Linked DNA regions of Homo sapiens. The protein of the gene in region 5 purifies or fractionates together with the protein of the main gene of each other region. This does not show direct contact. Each region holds a gene or a part of one and is shown on either strand. Other genes may lie near its edges. The genes, in order: UPF3A, DDB2, SMARCC2, PML, TOPORS, DHX15 and HNRNPM.

Region 1 (3,500 bases), on a different chromosome or scaffold from region 5:
TATTTGGGCAAATTCTTAAACCATGGTTTAAACCGTAATGGTTACAAACCACAAACACATCCATCCAGAGACTGAAACCGTTTCTATCCGGTCAGTGGCAAAACTGTTGAAAGGGCAATAGTTGAAGCTGTTGGGTTTTATATAGTGTGAACTCTGATAAATATTCCTACCAGGACTAAAACACAGCACGCTTTGCGGGCATGGCTGACTCACAAAGGTTGTAACAAACAAGAACTACTCTTCACTCGACACCATGGCTCAGAGGCCACCGAGAAGCACGAGTGACTGACAGCTCCTCTGCTTACAAACGAATGAAACCCAAAGTGGATGTCGTTCTCACAGCACTGAAAGTGCTTCAGGACTCACACTGATCCAATACTAACTTTCTTCCCTATTTTACACATATTTTTCTACTGTCCAGTGGAAATCATTTTCTGTTTTGGCTAAACAACAAATACTAGTTTATAACAGGAATGGTAAAATCTGTGAGAATTCTGCTCAATTTAATACAAGATCACTACTTTCTTTAGAATGGTTTCTGCGTGTTTCTACGTCACCCTCTGTATTTTTAGCTTCCAGTTTCCTGGTAAGGAATAAGTTCTCCTTCCCAGTCACACTCGGGGTCATTTACACGTTTCTGGGATGCCCTTGCTCGTCCATGGAGGCCAGGTGCGTGCAGTGACTCACTCTGCCTCTTCCCTCTTCTCAGGACCAGTCCCCGAACCTTCTGCCTTGCAGATCCTCCTGTTTCCGCCACACTCTCGCGCTCGGAAGCGAGCTCCTGGATCATACAGCTGCAAGGCTGGCCGGTCCTGCCAGGATAAGAGGGCATGTTACTCTTCCAAGAGGTAGCAACACAGAAGGGTCAATATCTCCCTATATTTCTAGAACTTGATGATATGAATTGTCCAAAGAAAATCAACTAGGCAGCTAAAAATCAGCCCTTTTTTCACAGCACTATCTCAGAAACCAGGCATTCTAAGGCAATTAAAAAAGCCATGTAAACACTGGTTATCTGGGCAAATGTTATTGCTCAAACAAGAACATGTAATCTGTGGGAACAGTACAATCATGACGTCCCCCTCTGAGTTGGGAAGTGAACAAAATGAGATGTGGACCCTCACAGATGGTTTCAGATCTGCCAACTAAAACTTATTAACGTGAGTAGTAAGCAATTTCCATGGGGCTTATCCCTGCCTAGCATGTACCAGCAGGGAGACTGAACTGGTCCCTTTTTAGAAGACATCACCCCATCATTTTATTAAACTCCTGGAGGTGAAGCAATAAAAATGACCCATGAAGTCCATGAAGGGCAGCTGTTGAGGGCCTGAAGAAGGCAACAGCCAGGGAAGCATAGAGTGGCCCTGAAGGCTAGTGTCAGCAGCGACAGCAGCACAATTCCTCCTGATGGGGCCACCAGCCCTGCCCCAGCACTGAAGGGGTGGCAGAGGAGGAAGGCGGCTTCCAGCTTCCGTGAGCCTCCTGCTCCACGCGCCTCCCGCTCCCTGCCTATTCTCCCTGCAGAGCTGCAGCCTTAGCCTCCAACAGCCACCAGGAGCCCAAGTGTGGGCTGCAAGGACGACCATGTGGGTACATCTCATGCGCTCCTTCTCCAGGATTCACCAGCTCACCTCTACCTCCTCCTGGACTGTGTGTGGAAGCCCACATCTGCTTACCACCAGGGGGTTTAACTTAATTTTCTTTTCCTTGGTATGAACCTGACCAATGGGAGGGGTGGGAACAGGCTCAGCAGGCCCCTGGACAGGCTGCCTGGAGCCAGCACGCATAGCTCTGTTTGTTTTTCTTTTTTTTCTGAGACAAAGTTACACTCTTGTTGCCTAGGCTGGAGTGCAATGGCGCAATCTGGGCTCGCTGCAACCTCTGCCTCCTGGGTTCAAGTGATGCTTCTGCCTCAGCCTCCTGAGTAGCTGGGATTACAGGCATGTGTCACCATGCCCGCTTAATTTTTGTATTTTCCGTAGAGATGGGGTTTCACTATGTTGGCCAGGCTGGTCTCGAACTCCTGACCTCAGGTGTTCCACCCGCCTTGGCCTCCCAAAGTGCTGGCATTATAGGCATGAGCCACCGCACCGGGCCGACAATTCTGCTTCTTACCAGGGCAATACCTGTATACACAGATGGAGCATGGAGCCTGACCTTAGAAGTACATGACAAATGCCAGGCTCCCGGGAAAGTAGCTCCTGCACACAGCGCCTCATTCCCACCACAGCACTGTGAGGCTAAACACAGGAGCAAATGCTCCCCCACCTCAGGTCGGGGGAAACACCAGGCCATTCACCACTGCTAAAATAAGCCAACTGAAGACTGAGGACTCCTATGAGCAACGCCCTATCAAAAAGACGCATGGCTGTACTTTGTGCACCCCGAGGTCCAGGCAACCCCAGAGAACTGGAGTATTCTAGAGGTGTTCATTCAAGGGTGAAGACAAGAAGGCTCTCCTCTGGCTTTCAGCCTTGACTTCACTGAAACTTTTTTTTTTTAGAGGTAATTTTGCTTTTCTTGCCTAGGCTGGAGTGCAATGGCATCATCTTGGCTCACTGCAACCTCCGCCTCCCAGGTTCAAGCAATTCTCCTGCCTCAGCCTCCTGAGTAGCTGGGATTACAGGCGCGCCACCACGCCCAGCTATTTTTTGTATTTTTAGTAGAGACAGGGTTTCGCCATGTTGGCCAGGCTGGTCTCGAACTCCTGACCTCAGGTGATCCACCCGCCTCAGCCTCCCAAAGTGCTGGGATTATAGGTGTGAGCCACCATGCCCAGCTACACTGAAACAGTTTCAAAGTGAACATCGTTCATACACACAACAACCTGGAAGGATCTGAAAGGAATTAGACTGAGTGAAGAAAGCCACTCTCAAAGCTCACATACTGTGTGTTTCCATTTATCAAGCATTCTTGAAATGACAAAATCACAGAGGCAGAGAACAGACAGTGGCTGCCAGGGGTTAGACATGGGGAGGGAGGTGAGTGGGAACTGGAACCCTAGGCAGCCCTCAGTTTGCTAGGAGGCCAGGGTGGGGCCTGGTGCTGTCAGAAAGGTGATGCCATCTGTAGTGCTGCGCTGGGAAAATGCAACCTGAACAAAAATTAGCTCCTGAAAAAAAAAAGTTGTTTGCTTGGCTAAGGGGGTAACCACAGTCCTGTGCTCACCGTCCGTGCAGATCTAACTTACAGGTGTTTGTGAGCCATGGGAATATTCACCAATAATCAGAATGTTGTTAATAATGTGGAAGAAACCTCCATGAAATATCATTAAAACTTTCCTTCCTGTCTCAAGGGTAAATTTAATAATCTTATTCTCAAGTGAATCATATAAACGTGCTAGTTTTATACTAAATAAAATCTTTCTTTTTCCTGGTGAAAAATAATTTGATTATCTGAGAAAAGATGATGACTAGTCTCACTCTGGGATCTGACTTTCAGGAAAAACTGCTCTTGAAAATGCTCAAAGCACTGCGTTCCCCAAGACACAAGGCCAAGTG
Region 2 (3,500 bases), on a different chromosome or scaffold from region 5:
AGAGTGAGACCTCATCTCAAAAAAGAAAGAAGAGGAAATAATAAATATGAGGAGAGAAATGGAAGACATGAAAAAAAATCCAAATTAAACTTCTAGAGGGGATATACAGTATCTGAAATGAAAAATACGCTGGGCTACTTTGCCTATGGAGCAGCCCTGCTCTGCACAGGCAAGAAAGAGAAGAGAAAAGGAAGAGGAAGAGAAGAGAGAGAAAGGAACGAAGGGAGGGAGGGAGGGAGGGATTGACAGCAGAAGGTTAGATATTACAGAAGTAAAGATCAGTGAACAACTGCACAAAATGAAACAGGGAAAAAGACAAAAATGAACAGTGCATCAACCACCTGCAGGACCATATGTAATCGCAGTCCCAAGAAAAAAAGAACTGTTCTTTTTCTTCATTTTGAACTCTTTGTAAGAAATAATGGGCTGGGCAAGGTGGCTCACGCCTGTAATCCCAGCACTTCAGGAGGCCAAGGTGGGCGGATCACTGGAGGTCAGGAGTTCAAGACCAGCCTGGCCAACATGGTGAAACCCTGTCTCTACTAAAAAAATAAAATAAAAATAAATAAATACAAAAATTAGCCAGGTGAGGTGGTGGGCACCTGTAATCCCAGCTACTCGGGAGGCTGAGGCAGGGAGAATCGCTTGAACCCTGGAGGTGGAGGTTGCAGTGAGCCGAGATTGTGGCACTGCACACCAGCCTGGGCGACAGAGTGAGACTTTGTCTCAAAAGAAAAAAAAAATCCATAAATCAAAGAAGCTTAGTGATCCCCCCACAAGCACATCATAATCATTTTTAAAGCGACCAGAAGAAAAATTACATAGACAGGAACATAAGGATAGTAGCAGACTTCTCATCAGGATGTTTTGTTTTGTTTTGTTTTTAATTGAGACAGGATCTTGCTCTGTCACCCAGGCTTGCCTAGCTCACTGAAGCCTTGTCCCCCTGGGCTTAAGCAATTCTCCCACCTCAGCCTCCTGAACAGCTGGAACTACAAGTTCAAGCCACTAGCTAATTTTTAAGATTTTTTTGTAGAGATGGGGTCTTGCTGTGTTTCCTAGGCTGGTCTTAAAGTCCTGGCCTCAAGAGGTCCCCCAGCCTCAGCCTCTCAAAGTGTTGAGATTACAGGCATGAACCATTGAGCCCAACTAGAAATCATCTTTATTTTTATTCTTTATTTATTTATTTATTTTAGACGGAGTCTTGCTCTGTCACCCAGGCTGGAGTGAAGTGGCCGATCTCGGCTCACTGCCAGCTCTGCCTCCTGGGTTCACACCATTCTCCTGCCTCAGCCTCCCAAGTAGCTGGGACTACAGGCGCCCACCACCACGCCTGGCTAATTTTTTTTGTATTTTTAGAACAGACAGGGTTTCACCGTGTTAGCCAGGGTGGTCTCAATCTCTTGATCTCGTGATCCGCCTGCCTCGGCCTCCCAAAGCGCTGGGATTACAGGTGTCAGCCACCGCGCCCAGCCTTATTTATTTATTTTTGAGACACAGTCTTGCTCTGTCACCCAGAATGGAGTGCAGTGACACCATCTCGGCTCACTGCAACCTCTGCCTCCCAGGTTCAAGATTCTCATGCCTCAGCCTCCCGGGTAGCTGGGATTACTGGTGAGCGCCACCACACCCAGCTAATTTTTGTATTTTTAGTAGAGGCGGGGTTTCACCATGTTAGCCAGGCTGGTCTAAAACTCATGATCGCAAATGATCCACTTGCCTTGGCCCCCCAAAATGCTGGGATTACAGGCGTAAGCCACAGCGCCCAGCCTAGACATCATCTTTAAAGTACTGACAGGAGAAAACTGTGAACAAATATATTGTATGCAATAAAATACAATTTTAATTTACCAATTAAAAAATAAAAGTTAAATAATTTTAAAAACTGTGAACCTAGAATTCTATACTTAGCAAAAACATCCTCCCTCAAAATAAAGGCAAAATACTTTTCTAGATAAACAACAGTGGAAAGTATTTATCACCAATCTGCATTATAAGAAATATGAAAGGAATTTCTTCAGGCAGAAAGAAAATATTACCAAAAGGAAATCTGGATCACATGAAAGAATGAAAGCACTGGAAATGACAATATGTGGGCAAATAGAAAAACCTTTTCTCATTTAAAAAGTATCTTTAAAACATTCCTACTCTATAATCCAGCCATTCCACTGCTAAGTATTTACCCAAGAAAAATGAAAACATATATCCACACAAATACTTGTACGTGAATGTTCACAGTCGCTTTATATGTTGCATTCAAAAACTAGAAAAAAATTCAAATGTCCTTGAACAGGTAAATGAATAAACTGTATCATATCAGTACAATGTGGCTGGGTGCAGGGGCTCACGCCTATAATCCCGGCACTTTGGGAGGCTAAGGCAGGAGGATAGCTTGAGGCCAGGAGTTTGAAACCAGCCTGTGCAACACAGTGAGACCTCTGTCTCTATAACAAAATTTTAAAATTAGCCAGGTATGGTGGCCTGTGCATGTAGTGCCAGCTACTCAGGAGGCTGAGGTGGGAGAATCGCTTGAGCTGAGGAGGTTGAGGCTATGCTGAACCATGATCATCCCTGGGTGACACAGCAAGACCCTGTCTTAAAACAAAAAACAATGAACCATTATTCAGAAAGAAAAAAAAAACTACACATAAAAATGTAGATAAATTTCAAATAATTATACTGAAACAAGCTAGAACAAAAATAAAAGACCATATATTCTATGATTCTATTTATATATAGTTCTAGAAAATGTAAATTAATTTCTAAAAATAAAAAATAGATCAGCAGTTTACAGTGAATAAGATATTGGGTAGAGAGGGGTGGATTACAAAGGGGCATAGATAACTCATCTATCTATCACTCTCCAAATATTCAACAAAGGGTGGGGAAATGGGAGTTATTTTAATTGTGGTGATGGCTTCACAGTTGTACACATATGTCAAAACTCATGGAATTGTACAATTTATTCTTTTTTTCTTACTGCTTCTCTGGAGTAGGACTACCCCATAGGCTGAGAATAGCCAAATTGTACACTTGAAATAGCTGCAGTTTATGTCCACTATACCTCAATAAAGATATAATTTTAAAAACCCAGGCCGGGTGCAGTGGCTCGTGCCTGTAATCCCAGCATTTTGGGAGGCCGAGGCGGGCGGATCACTTGAGGTCAGGAGTTCGAGACCAGCCTGGCCAATATGGTGAAACCCTGTTTCTACCAAAAATATAAAATTCAGGCTGGGCACGGTGGCTCACACCTGTAATGCCAGCACTTTGGGAGGCCAAGGCAGGTGGATCACCTTAGGCCAGGAGTTCAAGACGAGCCTGGCCAACACGGTGAAACCCCGTCTCTACTAAAAATACAAAAATTAGCTGGGCATGGTGGTAGGCTCCTGTAATCCCAGCTACTCAGGAGGCTGAGGCAGGAGAATCATTTCAACTCAGGAGGCAGAGGTTGCAGTGGGCCGAGATCGTGCTACTGCACTCCAGCCTGGGCAATAGAGTGA
Region 3 (3,500 bases), on a different chromosome or scaffold from region 5:
GGAGGTAGAAGCCAGAACTCTTCTTGGTGGCAGCCCTAATCCTACCCCTGAAATACACTTCTGGAATACCTGGGGTGAGTCTACAGAATACAGACTGTAAACCAGTATTGGTGGAGCAATGTCTCCAAAGTGGGGTTCTAACATAGGACGCAAAAGATGATCCACTGCAACTCAGGGAGAGAATACAGAACTTCTCTTCATGTTTTTTGTTTTGTTTTTTTGAGACGGAGTCTCGCTCTGTCGCCCAGGCTGGAGTGCAGTGGTGCGATCTCGGCTCACTGCAACCTCCACCTCCCAGATTCAAGTGATTCTCCTGCCTCAGCCTCCCGAATAGCTAGGATTACAGGCGCCCACCACCACGCCTGGCAAATTTTTGTATTTTTCGTAAAGATGGGGTTTCACCGTGTTAGCCAGGATGGTCTTGATCTCTTGACCTCGTGATCCGCCTGCCTCGGCCTCCCAAAGTGCTGGGATTACAGGCGTAAGCCACCGCGCCCTGATTCTTCATGTTTGTTTTTATCATTCTTTACATTTTTCAATTTTTTAGATATGTTTGTGTTTTAAAACGTTCCCATGGTAGCGGCTTAACAGTACAAGTACATAATTAATGCATATATACATTTTTTTTTCTTTTTTTTTATTTGAGATGGAGTCTCGCCCTGTTGCCCAGGCTGGAGTGCAGTGGCGTGATCTCAGCTCACTGCAAGCTCCGCCTCCCAGGTTCACGCCATTCTCCTGCCTCAGCCTCCTGAGTAGCTAGGACTACAGGCACCCGCCACCACGCTCAGCTAATTTTTTTGTATTTTTGGTATAGACAGGGTTTCACCATGTTAGCCAGGATGGTCTCGATCTCCTGACCTCGTGATCCGCCCACCTCGGCCTGCCAAAGTGCTGGGATTACAGGCATGAGCCACCGTGCCCGGCCCTTTTTTTTTTTGAGATGGAGTTTTGCTCTTGTCGCCCAGGCTGGAGTGCAGTGGTACAATCTCGGCTCCCTGCAACCTCTACCTCCCAGGTTCAAGCAATTCTCCTGCCTCGGTCTCCCGAGTAGCTGGGATTACAGGTGCCCACCACCACGCCCAGCTAATTTTTGTATTTTTAGTAGAGATGGGGTTTCACCATGTTGGCCAGGCTGGTCTCGAATTCCTGACCTCAGGTGATCCGCCCGCCTCGGCCTCCCAAAATGCTGGGATTACAGTCATAAGCCACCGTGCCTGGCCATGCTCAAATATATTTTACTGTCAGAAACACATAATCAAAGAGTTTGGAGACAACTACTATCAGGCACAAAGCACAGTCCACAACTCAGATATGAATATACAGTTAGAGGATTTTCCAGGGTAATGACCGTAATTCCAATAACCAGCTAAATTTAAGGAAAAGATCCTGTAGACTGGGAGGTGGACCTGAGAAATCAGCTCACTTGGGGTTTGGCAAAGGAGAGTCAAGACGGGGAGTGGGGGTGGATCCCAGGAGCTCAGCCTGGCCTGTACCTGTTTTGGGAAGTGTCACCTCTTCTACATTGGGGACTGGTGAGGGCTCGTCCATGTCCTTTGTCAGGTCTTCTTGCTCCTCTTCTCTGTGGCCACGCTTTGACTTAGTGTAAGGTGTTGAGGGACTGGGAAGGAAAGAGAGTGAAAGAGAACCCAGTCATCCTTGGACAAGGAGTCCCTGGAAGTTGAAGTTCAAGGGAAGGGAAGTGACAGAGAATTCCAAGGGTAGAGCTGAGTACAAACAGAAACCAGTAATCACACAGTAATGGGAAGTGGCAAAGGCTTTTCACTTGATAAAGCTCTCTTTAAATGTACTAGTGGGGCCAGAACCAGAACTAACAACTGAGCAGCTAAAGATCTCCTCATCTTCCCTCTCAGGACACCTGCAGTATTATGGCACACCCAGGTCAGGGCCAGGTGGTTATAGGAAGGGATTTGTCTTTCCTTCCTTCAACATGATGTGGAGAGAATGGTGAACACGGGGGCAGGCTAGGGGCTGGCACACCCTTTCTTAGCATTTTTCTTCTTTGCTTCTGGGGTTGGTGAAGGAGAGGGGGAGCGCTTCCTCTTCTTATAGTTTCCCCCCTTCTTGTCCCGTCGATCTGAATCTGGGCTGTTCACCTATAGGATGGAGAATCAGGACAAATGTCAGCCTACAATCCCCACTGAAGATTTGTTCTGAGACTTATGCTAAGGGCGCCAGGAAAAAAAGAACAGGATTTGTCACCTCATCTGTCAGTGTCTTGGCTGAAATCTTCTTTCGGCGGGAGACAGGGTTTTTGTCATCATTTACTTCATAGTCTTCCTCATTCATCCATTCATTGAAGGTGTCGGTGTCCAGGATCCACTTTGCATGAACCTAAAGTACAAAGGCAGATCATGCTGCAGAGAAGCCTGGAAGCCACAGCTCTGTCTGGGGACCCTTAACAGAAAAAGCTCAAGGGCATACAAGCCTCTGTTTCACTTCCAAAGGGTAGACTGTTCCTGGCATTCTTTTTGGGGAAGAGGGGATACAAGAAAAGCTCACCTTCCTAGGTTTCTCAGGAGTTGGAGCATCTTCCACAGATGCCTCAATTTCACTCGCTGGGATCCACGTGTCGTAACTGCCATGGGAAATTGAGCACACAGTAGAATCAATGGGATAGAATTGTGGAAAAGTAAAGTGCAGATCTTTTACCCTTTCCATTTACAGAAAGTATTGGGTTCTTGGCTTATTTTTTTTGTATTCTATTCATTATAAAGTAGTAAAAGCACATTACGAAACATTTCAAAAATAGAGAACAAAAAGAATCACCCTTACGTAACTACTCTTGATACTTGTATATCTGTTTTTCCTCCACAGTAATTTTTTTTTTTTTTTGATACAGAGTCTTGCTCTTGCTCTGTCACCCAGGTTGGAGTGCAGTGGCGCGATCTCGGCTCACTGCAACCTCCGCCTCCCGGGTTCAAGCGATTCTCCTGCCTCAGCCTCCCGAGTAGCTGGGATTACAGGTGCCTGCCACTGCGCCCGGCTAATTTTTATATTTTTAGTACAGACGGGGTTTCACCATCTTGGCCAGGCTGGTCTCAAGCTCCTGACCTCGTGATCCACCCACCTCGGCCTCTCAAAGTGCTGGGATTACAGGCATGAGACACCGCGTCCAGCTGGGGTTTTTGTTTTTGTTAAGACAGGGTCTCACTTTGCTGCCTAGGCTGGTCTTGAACTTCCAGCCTTTAGTGATCCTCCTGCCTTGGCTTCCCAAAGTGCTAGTATTATAGGAGTGAGCTACTGTGCCTGGTCCACAATTTTCTTTTTACATAATCATAACCATACTAGATGATGTTTTTACATAATCATAACCATACTAGATGATATTTTACATGCTTTTTTTTTTTGAGACAGGGTCTTGCTCTATTGCCCAGGTTGAAGTGCAGTGGTGCAATCATGGCACAATGCAGACTCAACCTCCTGGGCTCAAGCAATCCTCCCACCTCAGCCCCCCAAGTAGCTAGGACTACAGGTGCATG
Region 4 (3,500 bases), on a different chromosome or scaffold from region 5:
GGAGGCCGGGGCGGGAGGATCACCTGAGGTCGGGAGTTCAAGACCTGCCTGACCAACATGGAGAAACCCCGTCTCTACTAAAAATACAAAATTAGCCGGGTGTGTTGCCGCATGCCTGTAATCCCAGCTACTCAGGAGGCTGAGGCAGGAGAATTGCTTGAACCCGGGAGGCGGAGGCTGCGGTGAGCCCAGATGGTGCCATTGCACTCCAGCCTGGGCAACAAGAGCAAAACTCCGTCTCAAAAAAAAGAAAGAAATAAATCAAGTCATATAATTACTTTGAACTTCCTCCTCTCAACGAACTTTCACTCAGAGCATTCCTCTAGGTGCATAGGCACAGATCAGATGTATTCTCTTTAATAGCTCTGGTATATCCCAGATGGGCCACAATTGATTCAATCACTGTCGTTTTGCTGGCATTCAGGTAATTTCCTGTTTGTGCATTTTCTTTCTTTCGTTTTCCTTTCCTTTTTTTTTTCTTTTGGTGCCAATATGGACAACACTTTAGTAATATCCAAGTTATATAGCCTAATCATGGAAGCTTTTGTTCCTATGAAATAGATTATAAATATAGGCCTGCTAGATCAAAGTGTTTGTATTTTAATATTTTTATTTGGTTATTTTTTTTTTGAGATGGAGTTTCGCTCTTGTTGCCCAGGCTGGAGTGCAATGGCACCATCTCAGCTTACCGCAACCTCTGCCTCCCGGGTTCAAGCAATTCTCCTGCCTCAGCCTCCCGAGTAGCTGGGATTACAAGCATGCGCCACCACCCCGGCTAATTTTGTATTTTTAGTAGAGACGAGGTTTCTCCATGTTGGTCAGGCTGGTCTTGAACTCCCGACCTCAGGTGATCCACCCGCCCCAGCCTCCCAAAGTGCTGGGATTACAGGTGTGAGCCACCGTGCCTGGCCTGGTTAATATATTTTAGCTAGCAGATACTTCCATAGCATTTATTGTGTCTCAGATACTATTATAAGCATTGGCAAATATTTACTCATTCAATCCTCCTGACAATCCAGTGGAATAGATACCATTATTATCCCCATTTTAAGGATGAGAAAACTGGTGCAAGAGGCAAAATAATTTGTTCAAGATCACACGATTAGTAAGTGGTAGAGTCTAGATGCAAACTGTAGTAGCAGAATAGTGGCCTCTAAAGATGTCCACGTGCAAATTCCTGAGACCTGTGAATATGTCACCTTACTATGGCAAAAGGGTCTTTGCAGGTGTTATTCAATTAAGGACTTTGAGATAAAGAGATTATTCTAGATTATCTGGGTGGGTTCAACGTAATCACGTGAATCCTTTCAAAGGAAAGGGCAGGGAGGCAGGAGAATGAGAGGAGATGTGATGTGATGAATGCAGAGGTGGGAATGTTGTGATGTTGCCGGCTTTGAAGACAGAAAGGGGCCATGCACCAAGGAATGTGGGCAGCCTCTAGAAGCTGGGAAAGGCAAGAAAACGTTCTCCCTGAGAGCCTCCCAAAGGAGCAAAGCCTGCTGACACCTTTATATACCTCAGTGAGACCTGTTTCAGACTTCTTACCTCCAGAACCATAACAGAATACATTTACATTGTTTTAAGCCCCTAAATTTGTGGTAGTTTGTTACAGCAGCGAAAGAAAATATAAAAACCCAGGCAGTCCAGCTTAGAGTCCATGTTCTTAACCATTACAAGGCTGCTTCTTCAAATATTACCAGGGAAAATACTGTTAGTTCCCCAGAAATATTGCTGTAATTTACTCTCACCGGCAGTGATAAGAATAAGTCTTGGTGGTGTGCGCCTGTAATCCCAGCTACTTGGGAGGCTGAGGTGGGAGAACTGCTTGAACCCAGGAGGTGGAGGTTACAGTAAGCCAAAATTGCACCACTGTACTCCAGCCTGGCCAACAGAGCAAGACTCCATCTCAAAAAAAAAAAAAAAAAAAAGGAATAAGTCAGCCCACCTGAGGCCAGAAGAAAGGGTCTCATCTGGGACTACACTGAGATCAACTTGTTCTGGAACCACCAACAGAGAGCCTACTAGCCAGCCAGACTGATACATAGTGCTCATCAATGCTACGTTTAATTAGAAATACTAAGCAATTATGAAAAGAACTAATAACTCTACAGAAGGCAATTTGGCAATACCCATCAGAATTACAAATGCATTTAACCCAGCAATCCTCTTTCTTTGGATCTGCTCTGCAGCTCTATCTCTACACATAACAAGATGATATCCATACAATATATTCACTGCAGCACAGTCCACAATAGCAAAGAATTAGAAGCCACCCACGTGTCCCTCACAAGGCAATTAGTTACATAAATTATGATCCACCCATACAACGGAATACTATGTAGCTGTAAGCCATTGAGGAAGCTCTTTATATACTGATAAGGAAAATTCTCCATGGAGAAATGAGGTTAATAATAGGAGTACTGGAAGGATTAAATGAGTTAATATATGGATAAAAGTTTGAAAAATGACTGGCATACAATGAGTGTTCAATAAATGCTAACTATTTGTATTATTATGATATATATTTTAAGTTAGAAATCAAGGTGCAGAAATGTGTGTATCAGATGCTACCTTTTGTGTAAGAATGGGGAAAAATAAGAATATCTTCATAGTTGATTGTATTTGAATAAATAAATATTAAAAGGACATGCAAATTAATAAAAGTGGCTATGGGATGGGTGGAATGAGGGTAGAGTAAGACATTCACTGCATACCTTTTTAGATTATGTTTGAGCCTTGTGAATGTATGAATGTATTCCTTTTTTTGAAATTAAAAAACAGAATACTAATAAATGTGGGCAATTCTATAGGGTATAGGAATAAAGGGAAGAGAATAAGAAACAGTTGTTATTTTCCCCCTTTGGATCTTGGACACTTGGGGAGAGGGGCTGTGTCTGATGTTGGATCCCCTTCCTTGGAGACAGGGTTCCAAGCCTGGAAGGGCACGCCTCAGGCAGCCTGGCTGGATAGAGAGCAAGACGTTCTGGATGGCCATAGCCTCCGCTGGGTCCTTTTTCTAAGCTTCTTTTGTCCTGAATGGGGTCTCCCTAGGGTGACTGGCCCCTGCTTTCCCTCTAGATGGAAATGGGCGGCAAGTGTCTGTGAGGTGGCTAGCCTGAATCAGACACCTGGGTCTAAAAGCCCCCAGCCCTCTGGTAAGACTGAGGTGCAGATCCTGAATCAAAGGGCTGCCACCCAGGGCCAGGAATGACCTTAGCCAAGCGGTTCCTTTACCTTCATTCAGAGGACACTCACTGAGTACCTGCTGCGTGCTTGGCACTTTGGAGGAGGCAGAGGTGAAGTGGGAAACTGCCCAGAAGGGCTCCGTGACAAGAACCCAGACTTAACCGTATCTTCAGAAAGGCGAAATAACATCTATTTGCTTCTGGAATACTCAAAACAATAAGCAAAAACACCACTAACTTAATAAGAAATTGCTCACCAAAGTGGCTAGATTACATAATAATTAAGAAAGAAAAATAGCATAATTCTATCTTAGC
Region 5 (2,543 bases):
GGGAGGCTGAGGCGGGCGGATCACGGTCAGGGGTTTGAGACCAGTCTGGCCAACATAGTGAAACCCCGCCTCTACTAAAAACACAAAAATTAACCGGACATGGTGGCGCGTGCCTGTAGTCCCAGCTACTCCGGAGGCTGAGGCAGGAGAATCGCTTGAACCCGGGAGGCAGAGGTTGTGGTGAAGTGAGATTGCACCACTGAACTCCAGCCTAGGCAACAGAGCCAGACTCCAACTCAAAAAAAAAAACAACAACAACAACAAAAAAAAAAACCCCAAAACTTAGTGCAGAACCTGCCACATAGTAGGCACTGCAATTTCTACTGAATAAAGAATGAATACAGTAGCAAGGCAAAGGCAAACTGAAGGCTGAATTAAGATTTAACTCAAGCTCCACTGTTCAGTGGCAATCCTACATCAGCATAGATGTAATTTTATCATCCCTAAAACAAGATAAAACATAACCACTTTATATGAAAGAACTACCAATGTAAAAGAAGTATGACAAGGGTTTTTCATGTTTATTTAGCAAGTTAAATGCTGTTTTTACTGATGATAGAAAGCAAATAAGATACTCCTCAAAATCAAAGAAAATAATTAAAACTATAAAGTATTTGTTCACCTGAAGTTCAGTATTTATGACATAATTATGCCCTTAGCTACTTTCAAGATTTTAACTTTACTAAAATAAACTTTAAAAAAAAATACTGCATAGGAAAATGTCTGATTCTTGTTTTAAAGTGTTACTGTTTTATTTTTTTTCTTTTGTTGAATACACATTTGTTTTACTGGCAGTCCAGATAAACAAGTATATAAAGGAAATAGTAAATTTTTATTTTGGCAGAAGATAAACTGTGCAGATTAAAATGCCTCAATTTAACCTGAAGAAATGGTTTTGAATCATATAAATTTTTAAGAAGAAAAATAAAGACTGTCCAAAGGGATTCTCCTAGCTTATAACACATTTCCAGAATAACTCTCAAAAAAAAAAAATTCAAAAATACTCATTGACTACCTTAAAAATATGTCAATACCGTATGGCTTTATGAAATAACTTCTAAAATTTATATAATTTTTCTTATTTAAAAAGGACCCCAAGTTTTAAATAAGCTGCTAGCAGTATCATTTTCTTCACTTAAAAGTGCATATCTTTGAGGGTGGGACATACATTTTGAACAAATAATGATTTTTACAAATTAACACCAAAAAAAAAATCATTTAAAATATTGTAAGGAGGAAGAGAGTTTTCACCAAATGTCATCTTTAAATAGACTGCAGTAGACGACATTCTTCCTTTTTCCTTTTTATAACATCATAATTCTCAATGAAATGCTTTGGCAGTTTTAAGACATATCACAGTCTCTACCAAGACATACTGACATTAATGATGTCCGTGGCGATGGCAATTGCCTTGATGGCTCAGTTTGAAGAGACACAATGTTACTGGGCTGGTTCTCCAAATCAGAAACAAAGGTGCTCTCTTCTCTTACATCGAGAGTTTGTTCAACTGAAGCTGCCAGAGGTGGAATATTATCTACAGTTTTGTTGGCATTATTCAAGTTGTTACTAAGTGTGGCAATATCACATTCCTTGTCCAGCACACCAAATTCAGCTTCTATTGTAACTACATCTTTAGTTTCAAATGGTTCCAAGGAAGGAGCCAAAAACTCATTTTGTAGAGGGTCTTGAGGACCACTATTGTCACATTCTGTATCCTCCTTTACTTCAGAATCCTTATCACTGTCACTGTCAATGGTAATTACAACTGGGGAACGTGAAGCATTATCTCCATGGTGTTTCTTATGCTTCTTCTTATGTTTCTTCTTTTTCTTTTTATGGTGTTTAGTTGTATCAGTAGCTTTTCCTTCATAAACTATCTCTACACTTAGGCTCCGGGTCTTCCTTTTTCTCCTTTTGTGTTTTGTCTCTCTGTCTGATGATCGGCTGTCTGAAAAGGTATCACTCTCATTTTTGTAGTTTCCATCCAATTTTGATGAAGATTTTTGGTAATGACTGTCCTTTGCTTTAGAAGCAAATTCACGAGATGGCTGAGCCACTTCGTTAGTACCCTCCAAATGCCGTGTTTTGTATTTTCGTTTCCCTCCAGGCTTTTCATTTCTCACCCGGTCAGTCCCGGTAGATGCAGTCCTTGATCTGTTACTAGACAGGCTCCTTGATCTGTGCCTTTCATAGTAGTAATACTTCCTCTCACTGTGATTATTTTTTTTCCTAGCATTTGTTCTTTCAGAAAAGGACTGAACTCTAAATTCTGGACTTGAAGACTGTCTAGAATAATGAGCTCTGGACAGAGTCCTCCTCCTGTAAGATGATTCGTACCCATCCCTGTCCTTGTTTCTACTGTAATAAGTATACTCCCATTTGTATCTGCTTCCATAATTATTTCTTAAATAATAACGATCTCTATTTCTGCTCCGTGATCTTCTTTTACCATGATCACTGCTACGAGACCTTGATCTGCTTGTGCTTTCACTACTTAGAGACAGAGTTTGGCTTCTTCTGGACCAACTGCTATCTCTAGTTCT
Region 6 (3,500 bases), on a different chromosome or scaffold from region 5:
CCTGAGGTCAGGAGTTCGAGACTAGCCTGGCCAACATAGTGAAACCCCGTCTCTACTAAAAATTAAAAAAAAATTAGCCAGGTGTGATGGTGGGCACCTGTGATCCCAGCTACTTGGGAGGCTGAGGCAAGAGAATCGCTTGAACCCGGGAGGCAGAGGTTGCAGTGAGCCGATAATCATGCCACTGCGCTCCAGCCTGGTTGACAGAGCGCGACTCTGTCTTCCCTCCCCACCCCCAAAAAGAAAAAGAAAAACCCTTTCGTAAAAGGCTTTTTAAAACTTTGTATTATCCAAATAGCTTCTGAATTTATTTAGCCACTCAGGTATTCCACAGCACACCTATAAACACCCTATTGAAAAGAAGCTTAGAAACGCTACATCTGGCCGGGTGCGATGGCTCACGCCTGTAATCCCAGCACTTTGGGAGGCCGAGGAGAGTGGATCACGAGGTCAGGAGATTGAGACCATCCTGGCTAAAACGGTGAAACCCTGTCTCTACTAAAAATACAAAAAATTAGCCGGGTGTGGTGGCGGGCACCTGTAGTCCCAGCTACTTGGGAGGCTGAGGCAGGAGAATGGCGTGAACCCAGAAGGCGGAGCTTGCGGTGAGCCAAGACTGCACCACTGCACTACAGCCTGGGCGACAGCGCAAGACTCCGTCTCGAAAAAAAAAAGAAATGCTACATCTGAGAATAAAATTTTAAATGAAGTAAATTCTAACTAAGAACTTTTAGTAATCCTTCCCAAATTTCATGAGCATATGGGAAGACAAAACCAAACTGAAGTGTTTTGATGATGAATAGGCACCCAAGTTCACTCACAAGCTAAATACTGATGAAGATAACCTGATTTCAAAGCAGCTGTGATGCACATTCATGCTTCAGCATAATAGCACTTATATCCCAGGGATCTCTTAAACTACAATTGCAAAATCTTGAAATTCCAAAAGCATTTAACACTCTTAAAATAATTATAACACAAACTCTAGTGGTATACAGAAGTATTCCTACAGTATGCAGATAAAAGGGGTTATATATTTTACATATTAATACAATCAGGTTGAAGAACATTGAAATAAAAAATATGATTAACATGTTCTTATGATTAAGGTTGCTGCATATTAGAAACAGTATGTCAAAAGCTAAATAATGAAGAAAATTAAAACAATACCTCTTGACCAGTTAAGAAAAGAAGAAGATCTCCCTCTTCCTCTTCACACATATGAATCTGGATAACTGTTCGAATTGCTGCTTCAAGATAATCTCTCTCTGGTTCTGGAGTATAGAAGATCTCAACAGGATGTGTACGCCCAGGAATAGTTAGGAGAGGACAGTTATCAAAGTAAATCTGGAATTTTCCTGCATCTAGAGTAGCGCTCATAACTATAACCTGAAAGAAAACAGTAAATTATTTGAAGCTGTCTTCAAGGATTCTTACATGGTCTTACAGTATAGCAATATTTACTATTCTACATATATCAGCTATAAAAATGCCCATGAAAACCTTCAAATAAACTGTAAATGAAAAATCAAATACATAATGGCTGAACTATAGTAAAAGTTATTTACATTTTTAAAAATTTAGAAAAAAAATAAATGCACAAACTACAGCATTTCTTCATAAAATACCTTAAAATCAGATTTTATAAAATTATATGTAATTCAGATTGCTAAAAGAAAACATTAATATGCAGTATAATTATTGCTACCATTATTAAAACAAAACTTTGCAAATAGGAAAAAACAGAAAATGCAAAAAAAAAAAATAAGTGGACCAGATATAAAAAGGTTCCTCCATAAAAAGTTTCATAAGAGTTCTTAATTTCTACTTTCAGGTTCTCACTAAAACCTTGGTAGCACAATAAATTTAATAAATAATGATAGTACTCACATTATTCTTTAAATATATTTTTTAAAGCATTGATCTAATTTGTATAAACAAAAACATGCTCAGGCCTCAGTTTTTTTTCTAAAGACCCAGAATCTTTCTTGCCAGTGTTGAACCCTTGTTTGTTTGTTTGTTTCTGCTAAGAGTCTCACTCTGTCACCAGGCTATGAACCCTTCTATAACACTTGTATCAACAAGGGATGAGTCTACATTCCAATGAATAGTATACACACACAACACAGCAAAAAGGGGAACATCATAGACTTTGGGGGACAAAAATGTCAGAAAATAGTTTTAGGCCCTTAATCAATACAGTAACAGGGGCCAAGGTACATGTGGTATGGAGGAAAGAAGTAATACACGAGGGTAAGTGACTACATTTCTAAGGAGCTGCCTGTCCTGTGTATAGTTATTTCCACTCTCCAGCATTATAAGTTACAATGGGTGTTTGTGATGAGACAAGGACATGGATCTGAGGGAGAAAGATTTGATCCTTAAGTAAAATAAGCCTCTGTACTTAATGAAGGGTACAGTGAGTAGCACAGTTACACATATATGTTATTAGATTATAAAAGAACTAGGTGGGTTACAAATTGAGAAGATTGGGCTTAAAAATGCATTACTATAAAGGGGGAGAAATAAAGTCTAAAATGAAAGCACAGCAAAGCAGAAACAAAACAAGAAGGTACTTACTAGTTCCTTCTTTTACAGGTGATTTCTTACAGTTGGTTATTGATCAGTATGTATTCCCCATTTTTATGCCCACATACACACATATATAGTTAAATGGAGAGAAGAAATTACTTCACCTTTAAATCTGATCTCTGTCTTACAACTTCCTTCAGAACACCCATTAGAATATCTGTAGCCAGTGTCCTCTCATGAGCCTCATCAAGAATTATTACACCATAACGCTCCAGGAGGGGATCATTCATAGCTTCACGAAGTAACATCCCATCAGTCATATACCTATATTCCAAAGAACATGTTGGTTAAAGGTTCCGTTAGGTCATTTTAAAACCAAACTTCGTGACAAAAATGAAATGCAAAGACATAAGGTAAATTAAAAATAAACTTCTGCCCCAAACAAATGTGCTACTGTTTCATGATCAATTGCAAAATTAAGTTTCAAGAAAATCTTTTAAGAGTATACAATGAAACAAGATATGCTTCATCAATTCTTGAAAAATGTAATACTGAAATGTACTGGGAAGACATGATATGACCAATTATGGAACATAATGATCACATGGTTTCACATGAATGCCAAGGCAAAATTCGTCATTTTCAATTTCTTAAACCTTTTAAAAACATACAAATATTCAACACGCAAAATCTAATAAACCATTTTAAGTTGCTTCATGTCACACCACTAAAATGTTACCACATGCAAATAAACATTTTTTGTTAAGCCTTAACAATTCCTTACTTAATAAGCTAACAACAGGCTCTTGGTTCAAAAGGGCTGAAAGCGTGAGTCCTCCCACCCCAAAGAAATAATCTTAAAGCACAAAAGGAATTCAATAATAAAAGAAGTGGGACTGAGGGGCAGCATCAACACTAAACAAATGCTGATACATAAATGGAAGATAAAAACAAATGACGTCAGATTG
Region 7 (3,500 bases), on a different chromosome or scaffold from region 5:
TACAGGCTGGAAGACTTGGAAGCACAGTATTTGTAGCAAATGTAAGTAAACAGAACCATCGTCTAAAGTAGAAAATCAGAACTTTATGAAATGACCTTGTCAATATGTTATAAAAGTAATTCTCACATTTGAGAAGAAAAATGTAAAGAAGGGTTTTGTTCTTGATTTCTTTAAAAATCAGCCTTATAGGCGGGCTTTGTCTGCATTCCTAAGTCACAGGCTTGACCGTGGTCTCGTTGGGGCTGTGATTCCTGAGTTTCGCAGGTGTTTCCGCAAGCAGTAACCGAGTCTGCATTCTCCGTTGGTTTATTTTATGCAGTTTTGGTGCAGAGTAAGACTGTACGAGCAGAAGTGCACTGACACCTTCCTCTTGTTGTGTCTGGGGTGAATGATAATACCTCCACCATCTGCAAGGGGAAATATTTTTAGAATAAAGTAGGTTGGGTGGGGTGGGGAGTGGTAAAGCTTATCAGGGAAACAATTTTTTAAAAATGTTCAGAAAATGAGTATTAATTTGAAGTATGAGGTGACTTAAGTTTCTGAGAAAAGAGACAATATATTTACTATAGGTACAGTTTATTTACAGTGAAGGCCAGGCTTTATAATCCTATTTTAAAATTTCCATTGCAGTTGATTAGTTTTTGTGACATTATTTCCTAATACTTTTTTCCAACCAAAGCATGTATCATTCATGTAGTAAAAATGTTGTGTTTCTTAAGATGTTTACATTGAGGTTTTTACCCCGTTCTCTCTCGATTAGCTGGATTATAAAGTTGGCTGGAAGAAACTGAAGGAAGTATTTAGTATGGCTGGTGTGGTGGTCCGAGCAGACATTCTTGAAGATAAAGATGGAAAAAGTCGTGGAATAGGCACTGTTACTTTTGAACAGTCCATTGAAGCTGTGCAAGCTATATGTATCCTTCTGCAGGAATTCAACTTATGAACAGTTTGACCTAAATTGCTGTGTTAGTAATGTAGGTTTGTGTGAGGAAGAGGTGACTGTGTGTATTCATGTTTTTTATGTGACTAGGGGGAGTGCATTACTGTGGAATTAAGAGGTTCTCTGGGCCGGACCGGTCACGGTGGCTCACGCCTGTAATCCCAGCACTTCGGGAGGCCAAGGCGGGCGGATCACTTGAGGTCAGTTCGAGACCAGCCTGGCCAACATGGTGAAACCCCGGCTCTACTAAAAAATGCAAAAATTAGCTGGGCGCAGTGGTGGGTGCCTGTAATCCCAGCTACTCGGGAGGCTGAGGCACAAGAATCGCTTGAACCCGGGAGGTGGAGGTTGCAGTGAGCCGAGATTGCGCCACTGCACACCACCAGCCTGGGTGATAGAGTGAGACTCAGTCTCAAAAAAAAAAAAAAAAAAAAAAAAGGTTCTCTGGGGGTGGAATTGATTCAATACAGTGTGGATAGAGGGGATGGTTACAACATGGGCATATGCCCATGAGTCTTTCTACTGTTTTCTTTTCAGAAGAGTCTAGGTTTGAAGGAGGAAGTCCAAAGAATGTGCTACTAGAGAGAAAGTGGGGTTGTTGTTTCATGTGTAATACATCCTTATAGGACCTCACTCTTTCCAGTGAGTAGACATCATTTTGGAAGAGGCCACTTCTCCTTGACCCTAGGCTTAGCCTAGAGTTTTTAATCCCTTGGAGAGTACCCCACAGGAGCACATTCATACAACTCAGACAAGACCGTCACTGCATGTCTTACCCAGAAAACATGGTCCTTCAGTTTAGATAGTGGTAGATGCCTGGCCCATTGGTCACATTCAGAGAACCTTGATGCCACTGCTTAAGAGGATGGTTTGGTGAAATTGTAAGGTTACGAATGAAGCTTCACACCTAAGGAATAAGCGGAAGTTGTCTTGTCCTCCCCGCCAGCTTTATTTATTGTTCCTTTTATGTTTATTGTTGAAAGTATAATGAAGAATTGAAATTGCTCATAAATTCATCACTTAGAGGGACTGGTAGCAGTTGGAGTATTTTTCTTTCTTTTTGTATTTCTCTTGTGCACATTTTTAGAATTGCAAGAAATAGCCTTAATTGTAATACCAGCTATGTTCAATGGCCAGCTGCTATTTGATAGACCAATGCACGTCAAGATGGTAAGTCAGTAGGATCTTTCTCTGTGATATACTCAAGTCTAGCAAAAACATGGAATTAATAAGAGTGTACATATAGCCACTATGAAATATTTGTGGATTAGTCTAAGTTAAATAGGGTGCAGTATGTTGAGCAAAATTGTGAGAGAAATAACATTTTGCTGGTCAGGCGTGGTGGTTCACGCCTGTAATCCCAGCACTTTGGGAGTCTGAGGCAGGCGGATCATGAGGTCAGCAGTTCGACACCAGCCTGACCAACGTGGTGGAACTCCTCCGTCTCTACTAAAAATACAAAAATTAGCCGGGCGTGGTGGCACGCGCCTGTAGTCCAGCTACTCGGGAGGCTGAGGCAGGAGAATCACTTGAACGTGGGAGGCAGAGGCTGCAGTGAGCCGAGATCGTGCCACTGCACTCCAGCCTGGGCAACAGAGTGAGACTCTGTCTCAAGAAAAAAAAAGAAGAAAAAAAAACATTTTGCTCATGGCAGCTCTTGACTGCATTAGATATTTTTCCTTTTGCACAGTTGACTGTTCATGGCGCATTCAGGAAGTCACCTGGGTATCCTGGTTGAGCAAGTGATCCGTTTCAAAGAATGGTTATATATGTGGGGTTCCAGTTTTTCAAAGTATTACAGTATAATGTTTGGTTAGCATCAAATCTGTTGTGAACATAATTAAGTCATTGATTCAGACAGCTTTTAAAGGTCTGTTGGAGCACTTCAATCTTAATAAACATTTGCTCTGCCGTAACTGTGCCAAAGATAATAATTACTACAGGCATGACTGGAACATGCTGAGGGCAGTCTAGTTGGGACTCAAATTCAGGAAAAAGATAAACTATAAAGCAATTTTTTCATTACTCTAAATAGAGTAGGTAAGTTTTTTGAATAGATGATAGATTCACGTGACTCAAAAGTCAAAAGGCATGAAAAGGTAGTGTGAAGATAGTGTGAGTCCTACTTGGACTTCTTGCCCAGGTCCCCATCATCCCCCACAATAATATCCATGTGTCTTTTCCCTTGACATAAAATAGGAAGCATGCTCCGCATGCCTTTCTACCCTTGCGTATTACTCCATGGCGTGGATAATGTGTTTAGCTGGTCCTCTCTTGATGGGGGGCCATTTCAGTCTTTTGCTGTTGCAAACACTGCTGCACTGGATACTGAGATTTGTTTGTTTTCTTTCTCTTTCAGGATGAGAGGGCCTTACCAAAAGGAGATTTCTTCCCTCCTGAGCGTCCACAACAACTTCCCCGTAAGTGTTTCAGTGATTAGGGCTGAGAGTTTGAATTGGAGTTACACTAATAAACAGAAAATTACCATATGGTTTCACTTGAACCTGTGCCAGGTTAGCCCTCAGTTCTCTTGGCCAGTTCTTTTCTATAGATTTTTCAG

What was found.
Region 1: the proteins of TOPORS (region 5) and UPF3A purify together in Homo sapiens (affinity purification with mass spectrometry, with the first as the bait; one study listed by BioGRID). This does not show direct contact.
Region 2: the proteins of TOPORS (region 5) and DDB2 purify together in Homo sapiens (affinity purification with mass spectrometry, with the first as the bait; one study listed by BioGRID). This does not show direct contact.
Region 3: the proteins of TOPORS (region 5) and SMARCC2 purify together in Homo sapiens (affinity purification with mass spectrometry, with the first as the bait; one study listed by BioGRID). This does not show direct contact.
Region 4: the proteins of TOPORS (region 5) and PML purify together in Homo sapiens (affinity purification with western blotting; 2 studies listed by BioGRID, with this or other methods). This does not show direct contact.
Region 6: the proteins of TOPORS (region 5) and DHX15 purify together in Homo sapiens (affinity purification with mass spectrometry, with the first as the bait; one study listed by BioGRID). This does not show direct contact.
Region 7: the proteins of TOPORS (region 5) and HNRNPM purify together in Homo sapiens (affinity purification with mass spectrometry, with the first as the bait; one study listed by BioGRID). This does not show direct contact.

The regions. Positions count from the first base shown.
Region 1 is NC_000013.11:114,302,101-114,305,600, reverse strand, and holds part of UPF3A (regulator of nonsense transcripts 3A), read right to left. Parts: intron 813-3,500; coding exon 684-812; 3' UTR 1-683. UniProt on the Homo sapiens protein: Involved in nonsense-mediated decay (NMD) of mRNAs containing premature stop codons by associating with the nuclear exon junction complex (EJC) and serving as link between the EJC core and NMD machinery.
Region 2 is NC_000011.10:47,221,474-47,224,973, reverse strand, and holds part of DDB2 (DNA damage-binding protein 2), read right to left. Parts: intron 1-3,500.
Region 3 is NC_000012.12:56,179,484-56,182,983, forward strand, and holds part of SMARCC2 (SWI/SNF complex subunit SMARCC2), read right to left. Parts: intron 2,597-3,500; coding exon 2,521-2,596; intron 2,353-2,520; coding exon 2,221-2,352; intron 2,115-2,220; coding exon 1,999-2,114; intron 1,619-1,998; coding exon 1,494-1,618; intron 1-1,493. UniProt on the Homo sapiens protein: Involved in transcriptional activation and repression of select genes by chromatin remodeling (alteration of DNA-nucleosome topology).
Region 4 is NC_000015.10:74,018,716-74,022,215, reverse strand, and holds part of PML (protein PML), read right to left. Parts: intron 1-3,500.
Region 5 is NC_000009.12:32,540,044-32,542,586, forward strand, and holds the end of TOPORS (E3 ubiquitin-protein ligase Topors), read right to left. Parts: coding exon 1,344-2,543; 3' UTR 501-1,343; downstream 1-500. UniProt on the Homo sapiens protein: Functions as an E3 ubiquitin-protein ligase and as an E3 SUMO1-protein ligase. Probable tumor suppressor involved in cell growth, cell proliferation and apoptosis that regulates p53/TP53 stability through ubiquitin-dependent degradation.
Region 6 is NC_000004.12:24,553,555-24,557,054, forward strand, and holds part of DHX15 (ATP-dependent RNA helicase DHX15), read right to left. Parts: intron 2,857-3,500; coding exon 2,697-2,856; intron 1,390-2,696; coding exon 1,171-1,389; intron 1-1,170.
Region 7 is NC_000019.10:8,465,475-8,468,974, forward strand, and holds part of HNRNPM (heterogeneous nuclear ribonucleoprotein M), read left to right. Parts: coding exon 1-41; intron 42-760; coding exon 761-914; exon of another isoform or gene 915-1,140; intron 1,141-2,027; exon of another isoform or gene 2,028-2,060; coding exon 2,061-2,110; intron 2,111-3,299; coding exon 3,300-3,360; intron 3,361-3,500. UniProt on the Homo sapiens protein: Pre-mRNA binding protein in vivo, binds avidly to poly(G) and poly(U) RNA homopolymers in vitro. Involved in splicing.